Linked DNA regions of Homo sapiens. The protein of the gene in region 4 interacts with the protein of the main gene of each other region in a pairwise test. Each region holds a gene or a part of one and is shown on either strand. Other genes may lie near its edges.

What was found.
Region 1: the proteins of APOL2 (region 4) and EMP1 interact in binary tests that used the Homo sapiens proteins (3 or more experiments, as listed by UniProt).
Region 2: the proteins of APOL2 (region 4) and TMEM52B interact in binary tests that used the Homo sapiens proteins (3 or more experiments, as listed by UniProt).
Region 3: the proteins of APOL2 (region 4) and CISD2 interact in binary tests that used the Homo sapiens proteins (3 or more experiments, as listed by UniProt).

Annotation. Positions count from the first base shown.
Region 1 is NC_000012.12:13,213,726-13,220,999, forward strand, and holds the end of EMP1 (epithelial membrane protein 1), read left to right. Parts: coding exon 1-96; intron 97-808; coding exon 809-966; 3' UTR 967-6,216; downstream 6,217-7,274.
Region 2 is NC_000012.12:10,181,618-10,189,175, forward strand, and holds part of TMEM52B (transmembrane protein 52B isoform 2 precursor), read left to right. Parts: intron 1-932; coding exon 933-976; intron 977-3,712; coding exon 3,713-3,751; intron 3,752-4,802; coding exon 4,803-4,972; intron 4,973-7,558.
Region 3 is NC_000004.12:102,885,506-102,893,063, forward strand, and holds the end of CISD2 (CDGSH iron-sulfur domain-containing protein 2), read left to right. Parts: intron 1-1,835; coding exon 1,836-1,925; 3' UTR 1,926-7,302; downstream 7,303-7,558. UniProt on the Homo sapiens protein: Regulator of autophagy that contributes to antagonize BECN1-mediated cellular autophagy at the endoplasmic reticulum.
Region 4 is NC_000022.11:36,229,306-36,236,863, reverse strand, and holds part of APOL2 (apolipoprotein L2), read left to right. Parts: intron 1-15; exon of another isoform or gene 16-268; intron 269-2,528; exon of another isoform or gene 2,529-2,628; intron 2,629-3,408; 5' UTR 3,409-3,462; intron 3,463-3,622; 5' UTR 3,623-3,701; coding exon 3,702-3,711; intron 3,712-5,397; coding exon 5,398-5,524; intron 5,525-7,558.

The DNA.
Region 1 (7,274 bases), on a different chromosome or scaffold from region 4:
TCTGTGTCATTGCCCTCCTGGTCTTCGTGTTCCAGCTCTTCACCATGGAGAAGGGAAACCGGTTCTTCCTCTCAGGGGCCACCACACTGGTGTGCTGTGAGTATCTCATGGGTAGACTCCAGTTTACACTTTTAAGTCCATCTTACCATGGGTGTTTCTGGCAACTTGAACAGATTAGCACATGGTTCAGTGAAACTTCCTTGTGCAATTTTCTCCTCTGGTTATTTGTTCTCTTGTGGAGAACCTTGGATTGCTGCTTAGGTTAAGAACCCTCATCTGCTTCATTGTTCAAAACCAGTGCTCCTGGGTAGCTACCAAGTGGCAGTGCATATCTGTTAGTAGCACGTGTGTACAAGACACTTCAAGAAGGCAGAAAGGTAGGAGTTCTCAGAAAGATGAAACCACTGCCACAATGCACATCATTATTGTGATTCTCACTTAATTGTTGTTCTTTCCCAATATACTCGGTTTGGTGGAAGGACATGCTCTTTTGCATCCCTGAGTAGCTTTCCTAGACCCACAAGGGCCAGACAGGACAGCTGGGTGGTAGGCATGAGGTTCTGTGTTTTACATCACAGCGTGGCCACACAAACCAGTGCAGACATGAGAGCCCAGACACCTCTAATTTATCAACATACCGTCGAGCTTGGCCCAGGGGACATCCATCAGAACTCCTGTTTAGGGACAAACAAGCAGAATTCATTTTCCTATTGCTAATGAGGGAAATAGGATCTTCTTAAAATTAGTAAAACTTTTTCTCGACTTTAATGTAAGAAAACACACCGACAAATCTCCTTTTCCCCTGCAGGGCTGTGCATTCTTGTGGGGGTGTCCATCTACACTAGTCATTATGCGAATCGTGATGGAACGCAGTATCACCACGGCTATTCCTACATCCTGGGCTGGATCTGCTTCTGCTTCAGCTTCATCATCGGCGTTCTCTATCTGGTCCTGAGAAAGAAATAAGGCCGGACGAGTTCATGGGGATCTGGGGGGTGGGGAGGAGGAAGCCGTTGAATCTGGGAGGGAAGTGGAGGTTGCTGTACAGGAAAAACCGAGATAGGGGAGGGGGGAGGGGGAAGCAAAGGGGGGAGGTCAAATCCCAAACCATTACTGAGGGGATTCTCTACTGCCAAGCCCCTGCCCTGGGGAGAAAGTAGTTGGCTAGTACTTTGATGCTCCCTTGATGGGGTCCAGAGAGCCTCCCTGCAGCCACCAGACTTGGCCTCCAGCTGTTCTTAGTGACACACACTGTCTGGGGCCCCATCAGCTGCCACAACACCAGCCCCACTTCTGGGTCATGCACTGAGGTCCACAGACCTACTGCACTGAGTTAAAATAGCGGTACAAGTTCTGGCAAGAGCAGATACTGTCTTTGTGCTGAATACGCTAAGCCTGGAAGCCATCCTGCCCTTCTGACCCAAAGCAAAACATCACATTCCAGTCTGAAGTGCCTACTGGGGGGCTTTGGCCTGTGAGCCATTGTCCCTCTTTGGAACAGATATTTAGCTCTGTGGAATTCAGTGACAAAATGGGAGGAGGAAAGAGAGTTTGTAAGGTCATGCTGGTGGGTTAGCTAAACCAAGAAGGAGACCTTTTCACAATGGAAAACCTGGGGGATGGTCAGAGCCCAGTCGAGACCTCACACACGGCTGTCCCTCATGGAGACCTCATGCCATGGTCTTTGCTAGGCCTCTTGCTGAAAGCCAAGGCAGCTCTTCTGGAGTTTCTCTAAAGTCACTAGTGAACAATTCGGTGGTAAAAGTACCACACAAACTATGGGATCCAAGGGGCAGTCTTGCAACAGTGCCATGTTAGGGTTATGTTTTTAGGATTCCCCTCAATGCAGTCAGTGTTTCTTTTAAGTATACAACAGGAGAGAGATGGACATGGCTCATTGTAGCACAATCCTATTACTCTTCCTCTAACATTTTTGAGGAAGTTTTGTCTAATTATCAATATTGAGGATCAGGGCTCCTAGGCTCAGTGGTAGCTCTGGCTTAGACACCACCTGGAGTGATCACCTCTTGGGGACCCTGCCTATCCCACTTCACAGGTGAGGCATGGCAATTCTGGAAGCTGATTAAAACACACATAAACCAAAACCAAACAACAGGCCCTTGGGTGAAAGGTGCTATATAATTGTGAAGTATTAAGCCTACCGTATTTCAGCCATGATAAGAACAGAGTGCCTGCATTCCCAGGAAAATACGAAAATCCCATGAGATAAATAAAAATATAGGTGATGGGCAGATCTTTTCTTTAAAATAAAAAAGCAAAAACTCTTGTGGTACCTAGTCAGATGGTAGACGAGCTGTCTGCTGCCGCAGGAGCACCTCTATACAGGACTTAGAAGTAGTATGTTATTCCTGGTTAAGCAGGCATTGCTTTGCCCTGGAGCAGCTATTTTAAGCCATCTCAGATTCTGTCTAAAGGGGTTTTTTGGGAAGACGTTTTCTTTATCGCCCTGAGAAGATCTACCCCAGGGAGAATCTGAGACATCTTGCCTACTTTTCTTTATTAGCTTTCTCCTCATCCATTTCTTTTATACCTTTCCTTTTTGGGGAGTTGTTATGCCATGATTTTTGGTATTTATGTAAAAGGATTATTACTAATTCTATTTCTCTATGTTTATTCTAGTTAAGGAAATGTTGAGGGCAAGCCACCAAATTACCTAGGCTGAGGTTAGAGAGATTGGCCAGCAAAAACTGTGGGAAGATGAACTTTGTCATTATGATTTCATTATCACATGATTATAGAAGGCTGTCTTAGTGCAAAAAACATACTTACATTTCAGACATATCCAAAGGGAATACTCACATTTTGTTAAGAAGTTGAACTATGACTGGAGTAAACCATGTATTCCCTTATCTTTTACTTTTTTTCTGTGACATTTATGTCTCATGTAATTTGCATTACTCTGGTGGATTGTTCTAGTACTGTATTGGGCTTCTTCGTTAATAGATTATTTCATATACTATAATTGTAAATATTTTGATACAAATGTTTATAACTCTAGGGATATAAAAACAGATTCTGATTCCCTTCATTGTGTGAATGTTTTTTTCTAAAAAAAATGTGGAGAAATATGGATAATTATGACATTTATCCCTCATTAAGCTGCCTATCAGTTTGATTTGGACAACTTGACATTTATTTGAGACATTAAGCTACTTTCTGGTAATATATTAGGCATTTCTGCAATAGCTCTTTCAGGTAACTGAATATTATTAAGCATAGTTTTATCTTGCTTTGATTAAACCTCTTAGGCAAAAAATGGAACTTCATAAGCTAATACATTAGAAAGGGGTTATGATTATAAATCAGAAATGCTTGTGACATTAAGAAATGAGGCACTTGTGAAATTTCTTTGAAATAGCCAGCTCCTCTAATGTGTCTTCAAAATATAAAGTGATTCACAAAGGCATGCATCACACCTATTTGTAGCAGCCCATTCATTACATAAACCAGGGCATACCTGTGTGGGCTCTGTGAGTGAAGGGAGGCTTCACTACTTTCTGTGAGCAGTAAGGACTGGTATCTTTCTGTGAGCAATAAGGACTGGATAAAGACTGCATATCCTTGTGTCGTGTCAGCACCAATACAATAAGGAGGGTTTTAATGTGAAGCAGGCAATCTTCCAGCCCCTTCTGGTCTTGGATGAAATAGTTGCACAGAGTATTGCACCAAAAATACACAATGGAGGCTGAAAAGTTCAACATATTTTAAGTCAATTAATCAAATTGCATTGATTCTTGATGCTTTCTTAGAGGCCTACATGATTTCTTAGATTGCTCTGATAAACTATCATAAGGGGTCCACCTCCCCTCATTTAGCTCCCCCAGGGATTTCTTTTCCCCCATGTCATACACCCAGTCCTAAATCAACCCCCAAGGCTATCCTTCCATCCCTTCTGCAGAGGGAACTTTTGTCAGACTCTGCAACAAACTCCTAGCTCTATCCAGAGTGTCCTCTGCTGCTAAGATTGGTATCTTTCTCCTCAAAAGCCTGGATGGTGAATGGGGGTGCATTAGTCAGAATTCTCCAGAGAAACAGAAAAAATAAGATTCGCGTGTGTGTGCAAACATATATATAAATAAATAAAAATATATTTATTTTAAGGAATTGACTCACATGATTTTGAAGGCAGGCAAGCCCAAAGTCTGCAAGGGGTGGGCCAGCAGAGAGCTGGTGCTACAGTGCGGGTCTGAAAGTTGCCAGAGTCCCTTTTATAGAGAAGCTTAAAAAATATTTGTTGAATTAAATGTCTTAGGTAGAGACAAATTGAATTAAAGTGGTTAAGTAAATACTCTTAGGTGAAATTTGTGCAAATTATGAGTATAAAGAGGGTGAGCTACAGAACTCTCCATGACCACTCAAGAATGGGACCCAAAGGCAAATGATAACTTATTCATTCATCAAGGGATAAACTTGAGTTATCAAATGGTTAATAGATAAAGATCCCACTCTGCCTTGGATTTAGCCATCGCAGTCCCTGTGTAAAACCCCACCGGCTTTCAGGCATGGAAAAAAATTTCACAAAGGCCTTGAAAGAAGGCATATGAAGACCAAAAGGATATTGAGCAGGGTTCCATACTTGAATAAAGGAAGAAACTCCCTTCAATGTTTACTAAGAAATAGTTAGAATATAGCATATCCTGTATAGATGAAATGTCCTAGCGAAAATGTTTAAATGTATTTAAAGAAGAGCTAGATTTTGTGGGGGGAGAGAAGGGAATAGGATAGGCTGGTGGGAGGAAGAATGAAAAGAAGAAAACTTGTTGGAAATTTTGGAGTAGATTGTGAGGAGGGGTGACTCACTTTAAAGATGTATCATTTGGAGGTAGACACGATTTTCAGAGCACAAAACAGATAAGGAAAGATGTATGCTGATTGTGTGGAGCCCAAGGGAAGGCGGGGTTTTGGAGTCTTACGTGGCTTTGTTTCTGAAAGGGAGACATGTGAAGCCTACTCCTGAGGCGGGAGGCTGGGGACATGACCATCAAGACCTATAATTGATAAACAACTAGGGGCTGGGTGCTGCACCTACATGCTGGGGAAATAGAAAATGAAGCAGACATGTGTCCCATCTTCTTCCAGCTTTCAGTCTAGCTTGGAAATAAATCTCATACCTAGAGAAAATGGAGGATCTGTGGGATGTAGATGAGGTGGGAGCATGAATGCCTAGGGAGGGAAGAAGAAAGATTTTCAGTTCTTCAGCTTTTCCTCATGACCCTATCTCATGCCATGAGCAATTGTCTGGCATCTCCTGTGGGTTGGACCACTGCTGCATTTCTTACTTGCCAACATCACTTTGTCCCAAATGCCATTCCTTTGTTCCAGGGCCTCCTTGTCTTCCATCTGGGGAACTGGAGGTGAGAAGCATTATAATAGCCTCTCTGCCTTTATCTACAATCTCTCCAACCTGTGCTTTATGCTGATGTCAGGATGGGCGTTGATGGATGCTTCTATCACTGTCGGGGCAGGGAGGGCCAGAACACTAGCATAAGATGTCAATATGTCTATCCATATGTCAGGTCCATACTCAACTCAAGCTTCTGGTTAACTGCTGATCTATTGGCAACTCCAGTTCCCAATAAGTTCCTCATCTCCTTCTGAGACCACCTCAGTGTGGACTTAATCGTCCACATCACTGTCAGCATTTTGGTTAAAACCATTCAACAAGTCTCCAGGAAGCTCCAAACTTTCCTTCATCTTCCTGTCTTCTTCTGAGCCCTCCAAACTCTTCCAACCTCTACCCGTTACCCAGTTCCAAAGGTGCTTCCACACTTTCAAGTATCTTTATAGCAATGCCCCACTCCTGGTACCAAATTCCTGTATTAGTCTGTTTTCACACTGCTATGAAGACATACTTGAGACTCGGTAATTTATATAGAAAAGAGGTTTAATTGACAAAAAAGCTAACAAAGTGAGCCCTGATTCAAAAATGACTGTCTACACTTGGCACATGAGGGACTTTATGATATTAAGAGATTAATTAAACAACAGTGGATGGGGAGGAAGAACAGACTTTTGAGCTCTTCCCAATATAGGAATGTGTTAGTTCTAAAAATTTTCTTAAGTTGTTTGCTTGGAACTCAGAGTATATTTTTCCATACGAAAAATTCAGAACTATTTTATTTATGATATGGGCTAAAAAGACTTCTGTAATCTAGCTTGGAAACTTAATAATCATTAAACTTATTTTCAATGAGATACGACTGTTTAAATTCTGAAACCTGGAACCCTCTGTTGCCCTGCAAATGCTTTAGGAAAAGAAGAGTGTGTCTGATGGAGGATAAGATGGAAAGTGAATATGGATCCATATTCAGAAGACACGGTTGCATTACAGCAAAGGAACAGCTTTTTGCTGGCCATGCTAAGCATTTGACATTGATGTGGGAGAACATGGCATTCAGTATGACTCTGTCTGGATATATATAGTTTTGTAAATTGGGTGTTCTTAAGTTGAGACTGCATGTTTCATTCCAAAATCAATCTTAGTTTTCCCACTTGCATTAGCATATTGTATTAGTCCGTCTTCACACTGCTATAAAGACATACCCGAGACTGGGTAATTTATAAAGAAAAGAGGTTTAATTGACTCACAGTTCTGCATGGCTGGGGAGGCTTCAGGAAACTTATAATCATGGCAAAAGGGGAAGAGGTACGTCTTACATGGTGACAGGGGAGAGAGAGCATGCAAGAGAAGGGAAAACTGCATTATAAAACCATAAATTTTATAGAACCCACTATCCCAAGAACAGCATGAGGGAACCACCCTCATGATCCAATCACCTTCCACGGGGTCCCTCCCTCAACACATGGGGATTTGGGGGATTACAATTCAAGATGAGATTTGGGTGGGGGAACAGCCAAACCATATCATGTATCAATGCTTAAATTCAGTTTATCTGGGAATTTTGAATGATTCCAACTCCTTAGTATAGACATTTACAGGCTTTTGGGCATTATGAAATCGTACTATTTTTAATTTGATTTCACCACTTCTCCTCTGTCTTATAAAAAGCTGACATTGAGCACATGTGTCCTTATAATTTTTAAGGTGAATCAAAAGTAAACCTGTTTTGAGTATTTGGATATAGTTTTGCAGTAGCTCTTGAGGTTACTAGGGTTGCAAAATCAAGTTTGAGAATTATAGTGCTAGATTTATGGGTGAAATGGATTACACTAATTAGTCTGACATTTAGTCACCTTGTTTTAAAAAAGCAAGGCAATATTCTGGCAGTGATATTGAACTCCAGATTTCTTTC
Region 2 (7,558 bases), on a different chromosome or scaffold from region 4:
ACGCCTGGCCTGGTCACATTACTTAAAACCCTGTGCCTTAGTCCCTTAACCTTTCAAGATAAGGTTAAATATACCCACCAAGAGGGTTATTGTGATTAAATGTTATGAAATATTAAGAGTTCATGGCCGGGCGCGGTGGCTCACACCTGTAATCCCAACAGCACTTTGGGAGGCGGAGGTGGGTGGGTCACTTGAGGTCAGGTGTTCGAGACTAGCCTGGCCAACATGGTGAAACCCTGTGTCTACTAAAAATACAAAAATTAACCAGGCGTGGTGGCACGTGCCTGTAGTCCCAGCTACTCGGGAGGCTGAGGCAGGAGAATTGCTTGAACCCGGGAGGTAGAGGTTGCAGTGAGCCAAGATCACGCCACTGCACTCCAGCCTGGGTGACAGAGCAAGACTCAAAAAAAAAAAAAAAAAAAACAAAAAAAAAAAACTTGTTAGCAGTCTGAGTGGCATCTAGTAGCTATTCGATAAATAAGACTCTCTGTCCCACTGGCCCCCTCGCTTTTCCCCTTCTTCCTTTGTATAGTCATTGTCACACTAACAGGATAAAAAAAGAGCAGTGGTGTAGAATTCAACTGGGCAGGAATTAGGAGGACAATGGCAATATCCCAAGGGACAGAGAGATCAGGAATTTTCTACTACAAACAAATTAATGTAAATGGCTACCTCTCATTCACAAAGGGTGATGCTCACCCACCATCAACACAACAGATGAGATATTTGTTCTTCAAGGTTCCCTTACCTCAAGTACAAAAGCCAGCAAGTATGGGAGAGATGAAAATGGCAGTCCTAAATAGACTGCCCCTATGACCGTGACCTTCTTACTGCTTGATCTAACACAGCACAACCATGAGAGATGATTGGTAAGCAGCTGAACACAGTGGCCAAAACAATTTCCCTGTATAAGACAATTTCTCTTTCTACAGCTTTCTGGGACGAGATGTGAGGAAAACTGTGGTAATCCTGAACAGTAAGTATAGAGTTCAAGCTGGGAGGAAGGAGCAACAGACCAAAACATCACTACCCCAAAAGAGAGTCAAGATGTCATTAGACATCTATGACTTCTTTTTATTTATTTTTACTTAAGTAATAGATCTCATAGATGACTTATCACAAAATAAAGACGTGTTTTTGTCATCTTAAGCACTCAAAATAACACTGCTGACAGCATGTTTTTACCCAAAGCCAATCTTCCCATCAAAGCAGCACGATTAATCTCAACTTATACAGTCATAGAGACTTGCAAAAGACTTCCTTAGCCCTGCTCCTCAGTGACTCACCAGGACAGACGGTTTAGTATCTAGTCACTGGCATATATATTTGGGTGATTTCCAAAGTAACATTATTACTTTAAATTGGGAAAGTATTTTCTAGTTTTTAGGGCATGTTAACATTTATTGGGCAGACTTCATTTAGCTATCACTTTGATGTAGTTATCAACTAATCCAAACCTGTCACACTTAAGTCTTATGTAGACACAGAGGACATGAAGATAAAAATGCAAAAGAATCATTCCACTTAAAGGAACTGTAAAATACAAATTTTAAAAAGTAGTGGCACTTTGAATAAAAACGTGTTTAGGATGAAGAAAAATACATATTTAGCCATGGGAAGGGTTTCCCAATAGCCAGGTCTGTTAAACCCAGGGAAAGGGTGATAGCCTTGATTACCTGTCACATGCAAATTGGGTGTTGACTACTTGACACCTGCTTTCTGAGGTTTTACACATCTTCCACCATAGGAAGAGTCCTTTCCTATAAACCAGAGTCTAATTAGAACTAGAAGAGTTTTCAACAAGTAAGAAATGTGGGAAAACCAAGAGGAGTCATTGTTCAGTGAAAAACAAAACAAAACTATATTTTCTATAAATGTGTGACCAGAGAATAAAAATAGATTCACTAGATTTCAGTAGATTCCTGTATCAGAAAGAATTATTAAATAACAAAATTTACTACTCTTCAAAGATACACAAATATTTTGCCTCCCCTCATTCTCCAATTCCTGAACTTATCTTCTCCTTCTCCCATACAATCCCTATTTTTTTTTCATTCTTACAGAGAAAATTTACAATTGCCATAGTGAACTCAGAACATTATTTAGCTTTCATCATGGTAAAGTTGGCTTCTACTTTTTTCCCTCTTCCTGTTTGGTCTCAGTGGATATGCAAATTAGTTTTGATCCTGGATGTGAAAAATTAGGGTACTCTTTACGGTGGGTGTGATATTGTGAGAATATATATTTGGTTTTGTCCCTATCTCCTAGCATACAACTTCTAAAATCCCCAAAGTAAGTAGCATCATTTTGCATGCTAATGAGTTGATTGGTGGCTGGCAGCCCCTAGGTAGATTTAGGATGGGGCTGGTCATTGGAAGGACCAATGCAGAATGCTTAAAGCCTCACCCCTCAACATCCAAGGAAAGTAGAGGGGCTGAAGTTTAAGTTGATCATCAATGGCCAATGATTTAATCAATCACGCCTACATAATGAGGCTTTCATGAAAATCCCAAAGGATGGATTTGAAGAGTTTCTGTAAAGCTGAACAGGCAGTGGTTTCTGAAGGGTGGTGCACTCGGAAGACCTGCAAGCTCCGTGCCCCTTCCCACATGCTTTGCTCTACGCATCTCTTCATCCGCATCCTCGGTAATATTCTTTGTAATAAACTGTAGATGTAAGTAAGTGTTTCCCGGAGTTCTGTGAGCTGCTCTAACAAATTAACGCAACCTCAAGAGGGAGTCAGGGAACCCCCAATTTATAACCAGTAGGTCAGAAGCACAGGCAAAACAAATTGTGATTGGCATCAGAATTCTGGGGAGCCGTCTAGGGGACTGAGTCCTCACCCTATGGGATCGGATCCTATCTCCAAGCAGGTGGTGTTGGCATTGAATTGAATTAGAGGACGCTCAGCTGTTGTCTGTTGCTGGAAGATTGCTTGCCTGGTGTGTGCGGAAATCCTCACCCACCCACATCTGGTGTCAGAGGGTTGGGAGAGTATAGCAGGAAGAAACTAAGTTTTTTTTTTCCTACATTCTCAGTGGGAGTGTTGCAACAGCTTGCAAAAGATAAATTACAAATGTGATTGTATGACTTTCATACTCATAACTGAAATTTTCTTTATGTTTACATTTTATTGACCTCAAATATACACAAGCCTTAAGTTTCACATCCATTTTCAAAGTTACTCTTTGTAAACTTGCATTCCAAGTTCTTTCTTAGTATTTTTTTTTTCTTTTTGAGATGGCGTCACCACGGCCGGCTAATTTTTGTATTTTTAGTAGAGATGGGGTTTCACTATGTTGGCCAGGCTGGTCTCCAACTCCTGACCTCGTGATCTGCCAGCCTTAGCCTCCCAAAGTGCTGGGATTACAGGCATGAGGCACCGCACCTGGCCCTTTCTTGGTCATTTTTATCATAAATGTTTGCAATAGGCACAGACATGTTTTCTATGGACACTTCTAATGATCACTAGTTTGTTTTATAATGATTTACAAAATGACTCAGACAATGCCATCTATAGTATAAAGTACTATTTAAAGCATATCATTTGGCAAAAGATTCAACTAGCTACAGTGAATTTTAAAAACATAACCCATGGTGCTTTATTTATAACAAGGTATCACATCATATTGTAACTCATATTTCTGAGTCTGGAGTTATAACAGGGATTGACTATATTTTTAATGTAGAAAACTTTATTCTTTCTTTATAGTTGCCTGACCACAGACTGGGTACATCTCTGGTATATATGGTAAGTTTCACTTATAATACCCAGAAAGACACTGTATTCCTCAAGGCCATTAAAAATGACAACCTGCCTACTTACTTAGCATCTCATGGAGTAAGATTTCATTACTTCATCACTACCTATGTGACAATATGTCAGGATTTCCTTTTTCAATACCATCTCCTCCGCAAACATCAAACCATTACTGTGTCCTTCCCTCGGAGTCTGTTCTAGAAATATCTCAACGAAGATTACTTTAGTGAATTAAAAAGCAGAGCCTGGCCGGGCGTGGTGGCTCACACCTGTAATCCCAACACTTTGGGAGGCTGAGGCAGGCAGATCACTTTGAGGCCAGGAGTTCGAGACCAGCCTGAGCAAAATAAAGAAACCCCCATCTCTATTAAAAATACAAAAAAAGTTGGGCGCGGTGGCTCACACCTGTAATCCTAGCACTTTGGGAGGCCGAGACAGTGGATTATCTGAGGTCAGGAGTTCAAGACCAGCCTGACCAACCTGGAGAAACTCCGTCTCTACTAAAAATACAAAATTAGCTGGGCGTGGTGGCACATGCCTGTAATCCCAGCTACTCAGGTGGTTGAGGCAGGAGAATCGATTGAACCCAGGAGGCAGAGGTTGCGGTGAGCTGAAATTGTGCCACTGCACTTCAGCCTGGGCAACAAGAGCAAAACTCTGTCTAAAAAAAAAAAAATTAGTCGAGTGTGGTGGCATGTGCCTATAGTACTGGCTACTCAGGAGGCTGAGATCGTGCCACTTCACTCCAGCCTGGGCAACAGAGCAAGACTCTGTCTCAGAAAAGAAAAAAGAAGCAGCCCCCCAAACTACCTTAAATGTCTTACTATTTGTTCTAATGAATTGACTTACTGCAGCTGACAAAATAAGGAGGTGTATCTATAAAGCAAAAGCCTTGAAATTAAAATTATAAATTAAAATATTTATAATTATTCTATAAAATGTTTAGACAAGAATCAAAACACAGACATTAAAGACTGGTTACAGCAGAGCTGGGAAAAAAGCCAGATCCCAGAGCTCCCACTCGCCCCGTGGGCTTTTGCAGGTTGCTAGTGGTAATTGGCGCGCTGCTTCTCCTGTGTGGCCTGACGTCCCTGTGCTTCCGCTGCTGCTGTCTGAGCCGCCAGCAAAATGGGGAAGATGGGGGCCCACCACCCTGTGAAGTGACCGTCATTGCTTTCGATCACGACAGCACTCTCCAGAGCACTATCACATGTGAGTACACTGAACTTTTAACCTGGGAGGAGGACCCAATTTAAGGGAATAATGAAAAGGGTGCAAAGGTGTAGAACCACTGATCGAGTAATATTAAAGATTCCAGGACTCACAATAATTTCCATTCCCAGAAGCCTGATGGTGCAGTGACCTGGGCTGTCACTGAAGCTGTGTTCTCAAGGGTCTGTCTGGCTCATGATAAAGAAAGAAGTGAAATATTGGAGGCTATTGGAAATATTGAATAGGAAGAATTAGCCAGTTTATAAATAGTTACTTTGCTAAAAACTATTTTGAACTCCAAACGGATGCCTTTTTCAAAACGTCTTGGATTTTGTGAAATCTACTTTTTCTATTATCTATACTATTTTATATTTTTAAAGAAATTAATGACATGTACTTTCAGTTCTTTATTCTTCAAGGCTTGATACACTAAATTTTAGCCTTAACATTTTCTCAATGATTATAAGACACTTTCCCTTTTCTTCTGTGGTTCTATTCTTTCCATGACGGTTTTTTTTTTTTTTTTTTTTTGAGATGGAGTCTTGTTCTGTCGCCCAGACTGGAGTGCAGTGGTGCAATCTCAGGCTCACTGCAACCTCCGCCTTCCGGGTTCAAGTAGTTCTCTCCCTTAGACTCCAGAGTAGCTGAGATTACAGGCACCTGCACCATGCCTGGCTAATTTTTGTATTTTTAGTAGACACGAGGTTTCACCATCTTGGCCAGGCTGGTCTCAAACTCCTGACCTTGTGATCCACCTGCCTCCGCCTCACAAAGGGCTGGGATTACAGGCGTGAGCCACCATGCCTGGCCAAAATGGTTACTTTCTTTTTTTGACACGGAGTCTCCCTCTGTTGCCCAGGCTGGAGTGCAGTGGTGGGAATCTCAGCTCACTGCAACCTCCGCCTCCTGGGTTGAAGAGATTCTCATGCCTCAGCCTCCTGAGTAGCTGGGATTACAAGCAGCCACCACCACACCAGGCTATATTTTTTTAAATTTTTATTTATTTATTTGTTTATTTTTATTATTGGTAGAGACAATTTACCATGTTGGCCAGGCTGGTCTCAAACTCCTGACCTCATGATTCACCTGCCTCTGTCTCCCAAAATGCTGAGATTACAAGCATAAGCCACTGTGCCTGGACTATGCTCTTTCCTAAAATTGAGGAGCAAGTACCAGTCAGAACACCAGCTGGCAAAATGTGGATATTTATTTTGAAAAGAGAGTGATGGCTGGGCGCAGTGGCTCATGCCTGTAATCCCAGAACTTTGGGAGGCTGAGGCAGGTGGCTTACTTGAAGTCAGGAGTTCGAGACCAAGCTGGTCAACATGGTGAAACCTCGTCTCTACTAAAAATACAAAAACTAGCCAGGCATGGTGGCACACACCTGCAATCCCAGCTACTTGGGAAGCTGAGGCGTGACACTCGCTTGAACCCGGGAGGCAAAGGTTGAAGTGAGCCGAGATCGTGCCACTGCACTCCAGCCTGGGTGAGCGACAGAGAAAGACCCTGTCTCAAAACAACAACAACAACAAAATAGAATGATATGATGTGTTGCTGTTCACCTTTCCTACCTCCCCTTTCTCACTGTCATCTTAGGAAAAAAGGATAACCAAGGCTGGGCACGGTGGCTCAGTCCAAGGCGGGCAGATCATCTGAGCTCAGGAGTTTGAGACCACCCTGGGCAACATGGTGAAACCCCGTCCCTATTAACGTACAAAATTTAGCTGGGCGTGGTGGCACGGGCTTGTAGTCCCAGCTACTCGGGAGGCTGAGGCACGAGAATCATTTGAGCCCAGGAGGCGGAGGTTTCAGTGAGCCGAGATGGCGCCACTTCACTCCAGCTTGGGCTACAGAGTGAGACACCATCAAAAAATAAAAAAGGAAAGAAAGAAAGAGAGAGAGGGAAGGAAGGAAGGAAGGAAGGAAGGAAGGAAGGAAGGAAGGAAGGAAAAGAAGAAAAAGAAAAAGAAAAAGAAAAAGAAAAAGAAAAAAGATAACTGGGCATGGTGGCTCATGCTTGTAATCCCAGAACTTTGGGAGGCCGAGGCAGGTGGATTATTTGAGGTCAGGAGATTGAGACCAGACTGGCCAACATGGTGAAACCCCACCTCTACTAAAAATACAAAAATTAGCCAGGCACTTTTGTTGGCCAGGCACGGTGGCTCACACCTGTAATCCCAGCACTTTGGGAGGCCGAAGCGGGTGGATCACAAGGTCAGGAGATCGAGACCATCCTGGCTAACGCAGTGAAACCCCATCTCTACTGAAAATACAAAAATTAGCTCGGCGTGGTGGCGGGCGCCTGTAGTCCCAGCTACTCAGGAGGCTGAGGCAGGAGAATGGCGAGAACCCGGGAGGCGGAGCTTGCAGTGAGCCGAGATCGCGCCACTGCACTCCAGCCTGGGCGACAGAGCGAGACTCCGTCTCAAAAAAAAAAAAAAAAAAAAAAAAAAAAAAAAAAATTAGCCAGGCACGTTGGCACATGCCTGTAATCCCAGCTACTCGGGAGGACGAGGCAGGAGAGAATTGTTTGAACCTGGGAGGTGGAGGTTGCAGCGACCCGAGATTGTGCCACTGCACTCCAAC
Region 3 (7,558 bases), on a different chromosome or scaffold from region 4:
AAGTTCTTTAAGATGAGAGAATTTTCTGTAATATTTGGTATTGAAAGACCATATTCCTAAATTGAAGTTTTCATGTCATGATAGATACTACCTACATTAGAAAAGTTGGAGCAGCAAAGAAGAATAAAAATCTAATGCCTTCGCAATGTTTGGCATTTATGTAGAGTAACATGTATTTTAAAATACACATTCTTTGAGAGAGGACCTAAGGTTTAATGGAAAAAAGCTTTGGTGTCATAGTAAATAGTGGTCAAATATACTTGTCACAGTATGAGTTTGGTTGGACAAGTTACTTAATTTTTAATCTCTAATCTTCAGGGTTTGTTTTAACCTGATACATCCACATTACATATCTTTGAGAAGTGAGATGATATATGTAAACTGCTTTAATAATATGAGGTAGTAAATGATAGCCTCAATTATAGATGATTTTTAATGTGGGAAGGAGTTTGGAGTGATAAGTACTATAAGTAGTTGACAAAATCTGTTTCTTGTACTTGATCATAGATTATTTGAGGTTTTTAATACAGTATTGCTCATCACAGCATCCTTTGTAATAGCAAAATTTTTATAAACTAAATATCTGATAAAAAGGGAATGATCATGTTTTTAAAGGATATATAATGACATGAGATCCTGATATGAGTAAGAAAGCATATTACAGTGTGATCCCAATTTTGTTTAAAAAACGAATACACGCAGGCCAGGCGCGGTGGCTCACGCCTGTAATCCCAGCACTTTGGGAGGCCGAGGCAGGTGGATCACCAGGTCAGGGGTTCAAGAACAGCCTGACCAACATGGTGAAACCCCGTCTCTACTAAAAAATACAAAAAAAATTAGCCAGGCGTGGTGGCATGCACCTGTAGTCCCAGCTACTCAGGAGGCTGAGGCAGGAAAATCACTTGAACCCAGGAGGCAGAGGTTGCAGTGAGCCAAGATCACGCCACTGCACTCCAGCCTGGGCGACAAGGTGAGACTGTCTCACAAAAAAAAGAAAAAAAAGAATACACACAATAAATGCATAGGAAAAAATATACCAAACTGTTAATTATTATTATGTGTATCTGGATGGGTTATGAGTGAATTTTTTAAAATTTATTTTTATTTATTCTTTATTTATTTTTGCGGGGGACAGAGTCTTGCTCTGTCACTCAGGCTGAAGTGTGATGGCATGATCTCAGCTCACTGCAACCTCCACCTCCTGGGTTCAAGGAATTCTCCCACCTCAGCCTCCCAAGTACCCGAGACACAGGCGTATGCACCACGCCCAGCTAACTTTTGTATTTTTAGTTAGAGATGGCGTTTTACCATGTTGGCCAGACTAGTCTTGAACTCCTGATGTCAAGTGATTTGTCTACCTCTGCCTCTGAAAGTGTTGGGATTACAGGCGTAAACTACCGCACCAGCCTAAAATATATTTTTGTTTTCAAAAATTGTGTGGTATGCATGAGTTTTATAGCAAGAAAAAATTATAATTTATTTTGAATTAAATTCCATTGTTTTAAAATTAAGCAATAGGTGAGCTCGAATTTTAAGCTCCACAAATGACCAAGAACTTATTCGATTCCCTTTTAAACCTGTTGTCTATTTTAATCACTCATATGGACTCATTCATAGGTTTTTATTTAAAATCTAAACCAAATAATGAAGTAACTGTTTAAATTGTTAGATTTTGAATATGGTTCAGTTGGATGTAGAATGTAACTATTACTCAGGAAAACGATCTGATTTTTTTTAGCAAGTGATATGCTTTCTTTCTGAGAGCATTTCACAAATGTTTCTACCTAATGAATCATATTTTAAAAATAACACTTGTAATTCTTTTTTCTTTTTAGTTTCCTGCCTGCGATGGTTCACATAATAAACACAATGAATTGACAGGAGATAATGTGGGTCCACTAATACTGAAGAAGAAAGAAGTATAATAATAATAACAATATTTTCTCATTCTTTGTGTATAGAAAATTTTAAAATGGTGGTCTTAATTATTACTACTGGTTGAACAATTATTTCTTCCAATTTATTTTCTTCCTGCACTACTGTTTGTATTTGATCCTTTGTCTATTCAGTCACTTAATTAGAAATTAAATTGTCAAGCCTCTTATTCTGACTTCAAAGAATTAATGTATCTTCCAACAATAAAATCACTTCTGATTTTAATCTAGGAAAACCTAAATTGTGGCTATGGATCCAAAGCTGTTTGTTTCTTTGAATATCAATATTTTCAACAGGATCTTGTATTTAAAATTCCCACCTACATTGTTAAATATGTTATTTTTTCATATCTCTTTTGGTTTTGATAATCTGAAGTGTTTTTTTCTCGTTTTGGCCTTCCAAACTGCATTTGGTTAGGTGAATTAAGAAAAATATTGCCATCAAGAATTACTTGTGTTTTCACAGAGATAGACTCTTTGCTTTATAGAGATTGTTGTGTATTTAATATGAATATCCCAGCTTTAGAAAAGAAGTAAACTGGATACAAAAAGTTCCATTGAGGAACAGTTATTTACAGTATAAAAGATTTGTTTACTTTACAAAAGGCTTGTGTCTGTGTGTGTGTGTGTGTGTGTGTGTGTGTATTTTAAACTGACTCAGTGACAGCTGGGGTGGAATGGCAAGAACACTTACAACCAAACTCATGGGCTGCTGCAATTTGAAGATAATTGGTAATAAACATAAGACATTAATTCATATTAAAATAGTTCAGTGTTCAAAATTGTGTTTATGTGGATATTTTTCTCTTTTTAACACTATAAACCATTAAAATACAGTCATCCCTTGTATACGCTAGGGACTGGTTCCAGGGCCACACATATACCAAAATCTGCCCATACTCAAGTCCCACAGAAAGTCTTGCAGAACCCATATGTAGAAAAGTTGGCCCTCCAGTTGACCCTCCGTACACATGAGTTTCACATCCCATGCACAAATGCTGATCTGTGTGACCTCACCTGCATTTGATTGAAAAAAGTATGCGCGTAATTGTACCCACCCAGTTCAAACCCGTGTGTAAGGGTCAACTGTACAAAAAAGTTTGTGAAATAAACGTACTGGAGAATCTTTAAAATTTTTGTGCTTTTTAATCCTACTATTATGAATCTTTTTAGTTTCATCTTACATTACTACTCTCATAATAGCTATCCTTAGCCAGGTGCCATGGCACAGGCCTGTAGTCCCAACTGCTGGGAAGATTGAGGTGGGAGGATGGCTGCAGTACAAGAGCCCAGGAGTTCAAGGCCAGGCTGGGCAACCTAGTGCTCCGCCTCTGCTGGGCTCTGTAGGGAATCCTTTCTGTTGTAAAAGAGTTACCATTTAACTCCCTTCACTGAGTGCGTTTCTGAGACCTTGCTAGGCACTCTGGAAACTGCTTAGTTGAGAAAAGACAAATACAAAAGCTTTTCTTTAGTCTATTTAAGATACAGTTTATTCAGTTCACTTTGCTTTCTTTTTATAAGAATGTACAAGAGGCAGACAGAGGTAATCCTTCTAGAAATAAAACTAATTGTTATTGGGCACTTGTATGTACCAGACACTACACTAAGCATGGTACTTGGGTTTTTAATTTATTACATGTAATGTCAGTAGGTTCAATTATATGATCGTAACATCTTCATGACCAGCAGCATGTATTTTAGAGTTAGAAATGTAGTCTGGTTTTTGAGAAGTTTTACAAGGTGTATGTCCAAAATTGTTCTTTCCTCACATGTCAGTGGGGGATAAATACAGCATTGCTCTCACTTCTTTGACTCTGGGTGCTTTTTCGGATACATTTTCTTCAACACTGTTAAGGGGCCTCACTGTCAGATTAACCAATTATTTTTCCACAGTTGGTCACCAGACTTTGGAAAAAATCCACCTCACCAAAATTTTGGATATCCTGATCTGTGTTCATGAAATGCTCTTCTTTTTGTAAAATCTATCACTGCATCTCACAGCAACTTGTTTTCACACATGTTCTAGTGGTTCCCATAACTTAGATTTTACAGGAGGCAAATTTACTAAAAATGAGGAGACTAAAATGAATGACCAACTTTGAATTTTGTCAAATAACATTGAAAATGAATTATCTCATAAAAGGTAATTTTAATACCCCAAAAGTAAGATGGTTGTACTCTCAGAATAAAGACTTTTTCCCTGCCACATTTTCAGTTGTTAAAATATGCTAAGAGCTATGCCCATATCTTTTCCCACCTGTGCACATTTTTCAGAAGCGTAGGGTTGGTAGTAAGCTGTTGCTTTAATAACTCCTTTAAATAAGCATTATTAGCAGTTTGCATTACTTCTTGTAAATTTACACAATTTTATCTTGTCCATCTTTAAAAAATAGACATCTAATAACCAAATGTATTTGAATTGATGCAGTGTAAGTAACTTGTAGAACTTGAGGATAAGTGGTAAAAGAAAAAAAAAAGTAACTTGGCTCTTGAAATACATGTCTTCGGTTTCTAGAGCCTTCAAAATACAGCCCTGTTGTTACTGCGTCACATGATTGTTTTGAGGACTGCTTCTGCTTACCTAGGAAACTACTCATGCCTTACTCAGCAAATGAACATCACTATTACATAAACATCAGGTATCCAAAAGTGTTAGCAGGCTTGAGGTATGAATGATTCATTCATATGGGTAATTAAGCAAGTTGAATTATGGAAAGCACCTCACAATTCACACAATTCAGCTTTGAGTTCAATGCCAAATACGATGATTCATTAAGTTGACTTTGTATTTTGTAACCTAATTTGTTAATAAGTAAGTTACAGGAAGCCAATTAAGCCAGCTGCTGATCTATATAGTACTACCTTCCTCATTGTGATTCCATAGTCTTCCAATAGAAATGTGCTGTCAGAATCTGTATAGAGAGTTTGTAAATGCCACTATTTAACAAGGTTCTTAAGAATTTAGGTGGATGTTTTATTTGATACCTACCAAAGAAGCCTAAGTAATTGTATAATACTTAACCCATTTAGAATTCAGTTGTGGCAGCATAACCAATCTGGAGAGACCAGGGGAGATGTTACTAATGCTTGTACTTTATTCAGAAATGAGTGCCTCATTGGCTTGGTGCAGTGACGACACACCTGTAATCTCAGCACTTTGGGAGGCTGAGGTGGGTGGAGTACTTGATCTCAGGAGTACCATACCAGCTTGGGCAACGTGGTGAGATCTCATCTCTACAGAAAAATGCAAAAATTAGCCGGGCACAGTGGCGCACCAGTAGTCCCAGTTACTCGGGAGGCTGAGGCACAAGAATCTCTTGAGTTGAGGAGGCCAAGGTTGCAGTGAGCCAAGATTGTGCCACTGCACTCCAGCCTGGGCAACAGAAGTGAAACCCTATCTTAAAAAAAAAAAAAGTCTTTTTTTTTTTTCATCTAATCAAATTTATTGTGGCAGAAATCAGTACGAAGTTCGTAGGACAGGAGGAAACCAATATAAATATCTCAGCATTGTAGGAAATTTAACCCATGGAAAGCAGGGGTGAATTAAAGACCACTTTGAAGGCTGGGAAAAGCAGATAATTTAGATATAGTCAAAGTATGAAATCATTGATAGATCCAGAACAAGGAAATGATGTATGTGTTTACATATTACATCTACTTTATTAACAATTTTCCCTCTGTTAAACTAATATCGACTAATAGTAGTCTAGGTAAGTCAAGTTCAAATTAAGTGGTAATTGAAAAAGTCTTCTTTTTAAAAAATTTTTAATGGTAGAGGCAGCAGCTACCCAGAGTCTACTTATTCTTACTTCACATTGAATTCTAACAAGTTTGGTTATCTGATTTCTGCTTCTTAACAAATCACAAGTATCAAAAGGGTCTTGCAGAAGGGGTGAACTACAAAATGTGACAGCTGACAGCAAGTCAGGGGAACAAAAATAAATTTAAGGTGAACATTAAAGGCATAGCAGCTTGAGACAATTTATAGGATTCTGCATACAACTGTCTCTGAGGACATCACTGTGATCAAATTATACAAGTGATGTTTAGTGATGAATTGGAATCAAGATAAGTAGTATGTGTTATTCAAAAAGGCAGGATATGTGTTGCATTTGGTGGTAACAATTTCCCCTTAGCTATTTAGTTAAAAGCTTAGTGCTTAACATGTTGGAAAATTTATATGTAAAATATATTGACTTACTCGATGATTGGAGGCTTTATCACAGGAAGTTTTCCCATTCAATTGAAACATTTTTCAAGCTTAATGACTATAATTTACTACATAATTATTTATTTTGTTAAAGTTTGAGGAAAACTAAATAAAGCAGTAGCAATTTAAGTCATAATAAATTTTGTTAGATGACTTCTTCCACTTTAGGGGGAATTAAAAATCATGTTTAAAAACCACATGTGCAGCAGTTCTGTGACTCCCTCAACATCCGGTTGGCCATATAGTCCCTTTGCACCACAGAGGTTGGAGTATAGAATATGCCCAAAGCTGTTTTGTTTTGTTTTAACTATGCTTCATCATCTGAGGTTGTGTTAACATAGTTTGTCCTAATAGTCTTTTACTGGAAACTTGCTATATTTGATCATGTTCAGCAAGTAAACTAATTTTATCTACTTTCATATATTTTGAGACAAAGTCTGGCCCTGTCACCCAGGCTGGAGTGCGGGGGCATGATCGTAGCTCACTGCAGCCTCAGCCTCTTGTGCTCAAGCGATCCTCCCACCTCAGCCTCCCAAGTAGCTGAGACTACAGTCATGCTTCATCATGCCCGGCTAATTTTTTATTTTTCTAAGAGACAGAGTCTCACTGTGTTACCCAGGCTGGTCTCGAAGTCCTGGACTCAAGTGATCCTCCCTGCCTCAGCACTCCCAAAGTGCTGGGATTGCAGGCATGAGCAACCATGCCTGGTGTTTTATCTTTTGCAGAAATCCAATTTAGTAAAGTCATGTTGTAGCAAGCATCACTTTAATATAAAAAGTGTACAGCTTATATTATTAGCAATTGTACTGTTTAATTTTATATTAGTTATGGTCTTGAAGGACATTGAAAATCTGTTCAGAAAGACTATGTTTTTCAACCAGAGATGACATCACTCTAACTTTCCTTTGGTTTAAATGCTTGATTCTTCGCTTACAAAACTTCTGTTTTGAACAACTATGGTGAGAAAGTATATTTGTGATACTGTTTTCTTAGAACACTGTTGTCAGATAGATCAGCCATAATGTTAACACATTTCTGATCTCTATTATAAGGCTGTAATTTTCCAAAATAATACAGAAAAGGAGAAAAGGGTAGTACATTTCATAATTAGAGATAACCCTGTACTAGTGAGAAAATAAAAATGTCAAGTTTATTAAATTTTCAGATTTCCTGTAATTTTTCCATTACTATCCCTCATAAATTTCTCTGCATGATCACACTAAAGATATAAATTAATCACATCCATTCAACAAATTAAGAAACTCAAAACTCACAAGTACAATCTTCAACCCTATAGAATGCTACCAAGAAGTAAAATAAGATGAAGGTAGAAAGATTCTCTTTGAGGGCCAGGTGCGGTGGCTCACACCTGTAATTAATTCCAGCACTTTGGGAGGCCAAGGCGGGCAGATCG
Region 4 (7,558 bases):
TCTGCATACTCCCCTGGTGAACTGCTGCCCAGGACTGGGTCCCCCTTTTAGTCTTGCTGCGTAGGGGCCCCAGAAGACAGATATCTGGATGCCTCGACCCTGAAACAGAGGTGGGAAGTGGAAAGAGGGAGGCGAGTGGCTTTTGAGGAGGGGGCTTTTGTATAAGAGCTGGAGGATGCCCGGGAACCACTGAGCTGTTAAAATAAAGTCTGCAAACAAAGACCAGCTGCTGGAAGTGGGTGTGCCGGGGAGTGCGCAGAGACACAAGGTGAGAAAAGAACAATGGTGATTTTGGAGCCGCCCCTAACTGGGATGGGCCTGAATCGGTATTATCATTATTACTTATAGTGTCATTATTAGTCATTTTCATCTTGTTTGTACACTCCCTCTATCTCTCCTCTCCACCTTTTCCTAATATTGTATCACCAGTTTTATGTCCTCCATTAGCAACTTTGTAGCTGTAAACAATTTACTTACAACTTTCTTTCTTATACTCTCAGTTTTACCTAGTATTTCTTGACTCCCCTCTTTAAAAGATGACAATATTAATCCTCCTTCTCCTTCGTTCAGTGCTTCACATCCCAACTGCTACCTTTGTGCTTTAAGTTTGTACTAATCGGTAACAAGTATATTTAGTTCTCATATTTATATGCTCTGTTCTGTTCTCAAAGTTAAAAATCAATCAAGAGTGTTTACATTTTGTGATGTTTTAAATACTATTTACTGTGGAGCTGAGTTGTACACCATGTTTGCACATGTTTTGTGGCACAGCTTTACTTTTTCCTGATGTTTCTAATTGCCTTTGTTTTTTTTCCTCCCTTGTACTGCTTGCCTTCTTCATTTCCTCAGTTTCTCTCAAACTGTGAATCCTTTGAGGTATTCTATTGAGTCCCTTTTTCCCACAGAACCATTCCCTTTTTATTCCATCCTGGACTGGTCGTTTTGTAGGCCTACTGCATGTCCCACTGTGATCCTCAGATTCCCTTCTCTCTGGGTTGATTTTCCTGTTTTCTGGATCCCATGTCTTTTTCTTTCTTGGTTATCCCCACCTGCCCTCCATGGATGCACAACACATACACACACACACACACACACACACACACACACCCACCCACCCACCCTTTCTTCCTCCCGGTGGCTCATTCTCAAGTAGCTTTCTTAGAACACCCTGTGACCCTGTGCCTGGTAACTTTTCTATTCCCCATATAGCTCCTTTTCCTCTGTCATCTTTTTGGTTTATTTTCTGGAGGATTTCCGTGACTTTCTTTCACATGGTCTCTCTAGACTTGTTTATTTGATCATCACCTTTTAGTTTCTAGAAAATCTCTTTTTTTGTTTGTTTCATTGATTTTTCTTCTTTTCTATATATCTTGTTTTAAGTTTATGAATAAAATATTTTTTAATCTCCCTGAGGACATGGGTTTGAGATTTAAAAAATTACTTGTTTGTTCTGGACTCCTTTTGTATTTGGTCATCTTGGTCTGTTTCCCCACTTTCACCTTTCTCCAATTTCTGATCCTAGATCTATTCATATTGAACGGGGTGGGGGGCAGGTCTACTGGCAGTCTTCCCTGTAGGGTGATTGAATGGGAACCCACTGAAGTGTCAGAATACAAAGATATTATTTCTGGGGCATATTGCTTCAGTCATGAACTCTCTGATTTTTTTCACTGGTGTAGACTCAAGGCTGGCATGAATCCCATATGGCACGTGGGCCTGGTGAACTCCTCCCCTCTCTGAGGCTCTGCCTAGTAGACCACTCTGCCTGGCTGGATGCCCTCTTGGCATTGCTGTGGTTCACAGCTCCCTTCACCCCTCTTTATTCAGTTGTCATTTCTTCAGCCAGTTCTGTTTTCCAACATCTCTTGGCATCTCTGATCTCCTGTTGCCCTCATTTAAATTTTCATTGGCAGCAGAGGGTGCAGAGGCAGTGCGTGAGTTCTTGAGTCCGTCTGTCTGGGTGGGAACCCAGTCTTTACCACGTAGTAGATTCTGAGCTTGGGCAAGTCACTGAACATCTGTTTCAGTTTTCTTACCTGAAAATGGAAATACCAATGGTACACACTTCCTAGGTTCTTGGAAGAGTTCTGTGAGTTACTATTTATAACATCTTAGAGCAATTAGTGGTGCAAAATCCACCAATGTTTGCCCACATTAACATTAAGTGCCATTATACCTGTAAGTGCCTTGACTATGGCTGTAGTTTGATCTCAGGAGGGGAGGTTGATAAATGCTCTTCTGTCTTCTTAAAACAGTGCCTAAAGATGATTAATATGATTAACATTTGCTATTTTCCCTCACCTCCCAGGGTAAGATAATCAGGAGCAGAATGTGAAGAACTTTCCTCTATATAAAGATCAGCATTTATTCAGGCCGGGTGTCGTGGCTCATGTTTGTAATCCAGCACTTTAGAGGGCAGGGTGGGAGGATCCCCTAAGGCCAGGATTTTGCCAGCAGCCTGGGCTGCATACTAGGAGTGAGACCTTGTCTCAAGGAATAATGTTTTGTTTTGTTTTGTTTTCCTGAAGAAAAGACTACTGAGAGCCAGTAAGACTGAAAGAATGGACATCTTCATATCCTGTTAGTTTGAGTGTGAATTTGTACAGTTTTCATACAGAGTGGCTCTAGGTATAAAAACTTTTGAGATGTTAATAGCTTTTGACCTAGTCATTCTACTCTTAAAAGTATCTTAAGGAAATAATCTCAAATGTGAGCAGTTTTACGTGAGGGAGGATATTCTTTGTAGCATAATTTATATGAAGAATTAGAAACACCCTAAGGTCCATCAGCTAGGGGAGGACAGCAGAGGGGACGGGGAAGCATCAGGAGGGCTCGGCAGCCACAGCAGGGGCTGGGCCGGCATCTAGCAGGATCCAGGTCTTTGTGGGACAAAGAATCTTAGAGAAGCAACGGGGACACAGGCTGTCCACTGCAGCACCAGTGAGTTCACCAAGACGAAGAGTTGAGCACAGAGTGTGAGACAGGGATTTGCAATGAGGAGTCATTTACCATGAGCGTGTATACATGACTCAATATTGTATATTTAAGGGAGTAGAGCACAGTAATTGAAGACATGGGATTGAAGCAGAAGTCCTGGCTCTAGCACTATTGTGAAAACACCCATAAGTTCCCTAACTTTTGTGGATTCCTCTGTGTTCAAATGGGAAAGTGGTACCCATCTCCTGTCCTGTGTGTGATCATCGAATGAGATACATGTCAGAGGCCATGCACATCACAGACACACAATACACACTGGCTATCATCAACTAGTTATCATACATGTTCCCAGGCCCAGGTCATTGTCAGAATGTTCCCTCCCATCTCTATTCCTGTGTATAGACTCTGTAGTTTCTGTAATGATCAGATGGCTGCCCCTCCTCTGATTATCTTCTTCTCATACCCCTACAGGACAAGAGGACCCTGCCTTGGTGTGAGAGTGAGGGAAGAGGAAGCTGGAACGAGGTGAGTTTCTGTAAATACTAGCTGGCAGGGCCCCAGGAGATAAACACTCTGGACATTTGCTGCTACCACAGAGGGATCTGCAAAGACCCAGCCCCTCCAGCCTCCCTCTGTACACAGGAGGCTCACCTTCGATCCCACAATTTGTTTTCTCGTTCTCAAGGGTTAAGGAAAACCTTCCAGTCTGGACAGTGACTGGAGAGCTCCAAGGAAAGCCCCTCGGTAACCCAGCCGCTGGCACCATGAACCCAGGTAGGCTCGCTTCCTCTTTCCTGGCTAGTTCCTACTCGCACCTAGAATGGAGGGTGGCACCTCCACAGCTGAGTGAGCCCCAGAAGAACCCAGATGGACTAGGAGGCCAATGAGTCTGCCCCGAGCAGCAGAAGAGGTCACGTGGAGTCCCCCGACCCAGGGGTCTGGGGGTCATCTGCATCCTGACCTCTCCTCGGGGTGACACGGCCCAGGTGCCCACTTCCTCCCTACCCTGTCACCCAGCAGATGACTCAAGTGGGGCAGGACAGCCATGAGGAAGTGGAACAAGCAAGAGAGGGGAGTGGGGGAAGAGCAGGGTCCAGGAGGAGGGGAGGGGTGGGAGAGGAGGTTGACCTGCAGCCCTGATCTCTTATCTACCGCTCTTCTCCCTGCTGACCCAGGGTTTTTTCCAGCACAGGCCGGTCCCCTCCCTCCAGCTCTTGCCCTGCACCAGCCCCTCTGTTCTGAGTGGCCCTATGGGAATGTATCATGCTTGACCCAGCTTCCAACTTAAATGGACCCCGGTCTGGCCTTTTCCAAGTCCCTTCTGTGTGACCTGGAGCTCCTTACCTCCCCTCTCGTGTACCATGAAAATAATATTTCCCCATGTTGTCACGAAGATTAAATATTATAAGGGTACCTGGCCTGGCCAAAGCCTGCCACACAGTAGGGCCTCCCTAAGAATTAGTTTGCATCCCCTCTATCTCCTCTATCTATCCCCTGTTGATTCCAGGTGGAAGCCACCCAGTCCCCTCATCTGTGTTAGGGCACCCGCCCTGCACTGCCCATCACAAGCACCTGCTGACCAGGGATGACTGCCTCAGGCAGGGCCTCATTCCCATGATCTCAGATACCCCTTGTCAAAGAAAAATCTGAGGCACAGTAACATTTATTTGAATAAGAAGGAATTCATGAATTGAGAAAACCAAACTGGAAGAGGCTTCATGTTATGATGAAAAAGTGTCAGAGACAAGTATTTATCGAGTAAATATGAAACTGCAATAAGGACATTATTTGATTGGTTGCAGTTACAAAACTGCCTGTTTTGATTTACCTTTTTGGAAAATTCCTGGTCACATTGGTGCTGGTGGGTTTAGGAAGTTCTCCGAATCCAGGAGAGACCAGACCTTAGCCTTGTCCAGGTTTTTGACTCCACTGAGAGAAAAAATTTGAGTCAAAGAAAAAACAAATCAGCTGCAAAGCAGAAGCACAGGCTCAGGGATGGAAGTGCAGGTGGACTCAGAAGAGCCAGTTGGGCCCAGTGGGGTTTGGGGTTTCTGTCTTTGATGGTTTATTAAATTAAGGGGTTGGAGCCTTGGGAGGACTCTCTTGCTGGCTTGCGGCAGCTGCCTTTGCGCTGTGTGCTTACCTGGCCTTATTGTTTCTCTTTCTCTTCTTACAATAGGACACTAGCCCTCTAGTAGGATTAGAGCCCTACCCTTGTGATCTCATTCAGTCTTAATTGCTTCCTTAAAGGCCCAATCTTCAAATATAGTCACTCGAGTTTAGGGCTTCAGCATATGAATTTTGGGGGCACACAATCCCTCTATAGCACTGATGACTCCATCAAACATGTCCCACATCACAGTTGTCCAGGAAAAATTAACATGTAACCACCTAATGTGCAATGGCTGTTATGCTCCCCTACACTATCCTCCAACCTTATCCTTTCTTCTTTCCAACTAGAGAGCAGTATCTTTATTGAGGATTACCTTAAGTATTTCCAGGACCAAGTGAGCAGAGAGAATCTGCTACAACTGCTGACTGATGATGAAGCCTGGAATGGATTCGTGGCTGCTGCTGAACTGCCCAGGTAAGCTCCATGGGGTTAACTCCATGGGGCGCCCCAGCGATGCCACTCAGATCTCCCCTGGGCTGGTTGTCCCTGACAGGCACACCTCCTCCAGGCAGCCCCCTCTGCTGGGCTTGAGGATGACCTTCTCGGCACTCCAGGAGGAATATTTCCTCCATGTCCTTCGCTGGCAGTGAGTAGCCTCAGGCTGAGGGGATAGGAAGCCCACAGGAACAGGGTCATTTCTGCCATCTGCTGGTGATGGGAACTTTGCCAGTTACTTTCTCACTTTCAGCCTTTCTTCATCAATGGAGTTTTATTATGAGAAAAATGAGATCATGCATGTAAAGTGCTTAGCATAATGACTGACACATAGTAGGTGCACAGTTAACGTTAACATCTTACAAGCTTGGTGGAAAGAGACCAGGGTTAAGGATCTTCTTCTTGAAGATGGGAGCCCAGCAGGACTTCCTTTGGGAAAAGTCAGAAAAATCCTAACCTAAACAATATGTGTTCCTGGGGATGCTGGCTGGGGCCTTTTTTCTCATCTGAAGAATTCCACAAACACAGCAGGACCCTTCTGCTGGTCCAGGATCCTGAGAGGCCTAGTTCCTGGGCTCTGGGCTTATGTCATGGAGACTTGGAACTGTCTTCTGTCCAATAGGAATAGCAATTCAATGTCATAGGAGTGTGGTGAAGGCCTTAGAGGCAACTCCAGGTCAAAGGTGGGGAACCAAGGACTAAGATCCTGCTCAAAGGCCCAGAGAGACCGGGACCAGTGTCAGAGCCTGGAGTCAGGATGGAGTAAGAGTCAGCCTTGGTTTGGTAGGACAAGCAGGAAGGCTGGGGCACCAGGGCTGGGACTAGGGTGTGGAAAGAGAGGCACCAAGGGCTTGAAACTTAAGGAGGTCATGAACTTGCAGAGGACATGTGAGTGGGAGAGGGATATTTCTTCCCTGTCTGGATGATCCCAACACTCATGGGCATACAGGGTCATGGTAGCCTGTGTCTCTCACCCCATGCCTTGGAACTGGTGAGTTCTGGACTACCCTTTCAGACCTTCTTCTCTTCTACACAGAGAAGCTCCTTACCATGGCATGCCTTAGTGACCATTTCCAAAGTAGAATGAGTTGCTGCCAATTTGTGTAATTTCAGGGGTACTGAGCAGACTCACAAAGTCCCAACCGAGGAGGAAAACACTTCCTCTACCATCTTGACCAAATTCAGGTCTTTTCAGCATTAGCAATTTATATAGATGGTTCTGAAAGTGTCTTGAGTCTTCTAGTGGTTCCATAAAATTGCACATGGCCTTGCTGTGCACACAGGTGAAGCTGTCACTGCTAAGGCATCAGTTAGGCTGGTGACACCTGCGAGTGAGACCTGGAAGGTTGGGGGTGCAGGTGGTAGGTCAGGAGGCAGTAAGGTGGCTGGAGCGTCCATGTGGAGCCAGAATGAATAGCCAGATCTCCCACTCCAGTCAGCTGGGGCAGTGGCCGCACCCAGTAGCCTTCAGCCAGGTGAAAGGGCATGAGGCATTGGAAGGGAGCAGATGCCAGGCAAAGTGATCTCCTGTCTTTCTGAGGTTTTGTTTTTGTTTGAATTCAAAGTACTCAGAGATAGCCAGACTGCAATGTCTGAGGGCACCCTTACCTTTGACACCACCTGCAAATCTATGGGGATTCCTAAAATCATCCTTAGATTTTATAATTCACTAGAAGGACTCACGTAACTCACTGAAAACTGCTATTGCACGATTGTGGTTTATCACAGGGAAAGAACACAGATTAAAATCAGCCTAAGGAAGAGACACACAGGGCAGAGTCTGGGAGGATTTCAGGTGTGAATCTTCATTGTCCTCAGGAGGCTGTGTTCTCCTGTGTGAATGTGGGACAAAACACATGCGGTGTTGCCAACCAGGGAAGCTCACCCAGTTAAGGAAAAATTCCTGTGAATCACATTAAACCAGAAATGAAGCCTTTATTCAGGATTGTTGTTACAGGGGAGGGAGACTGAGCCCAGCTCCAAATATAGTAAAGACAGAGGGGGAGTCACAGC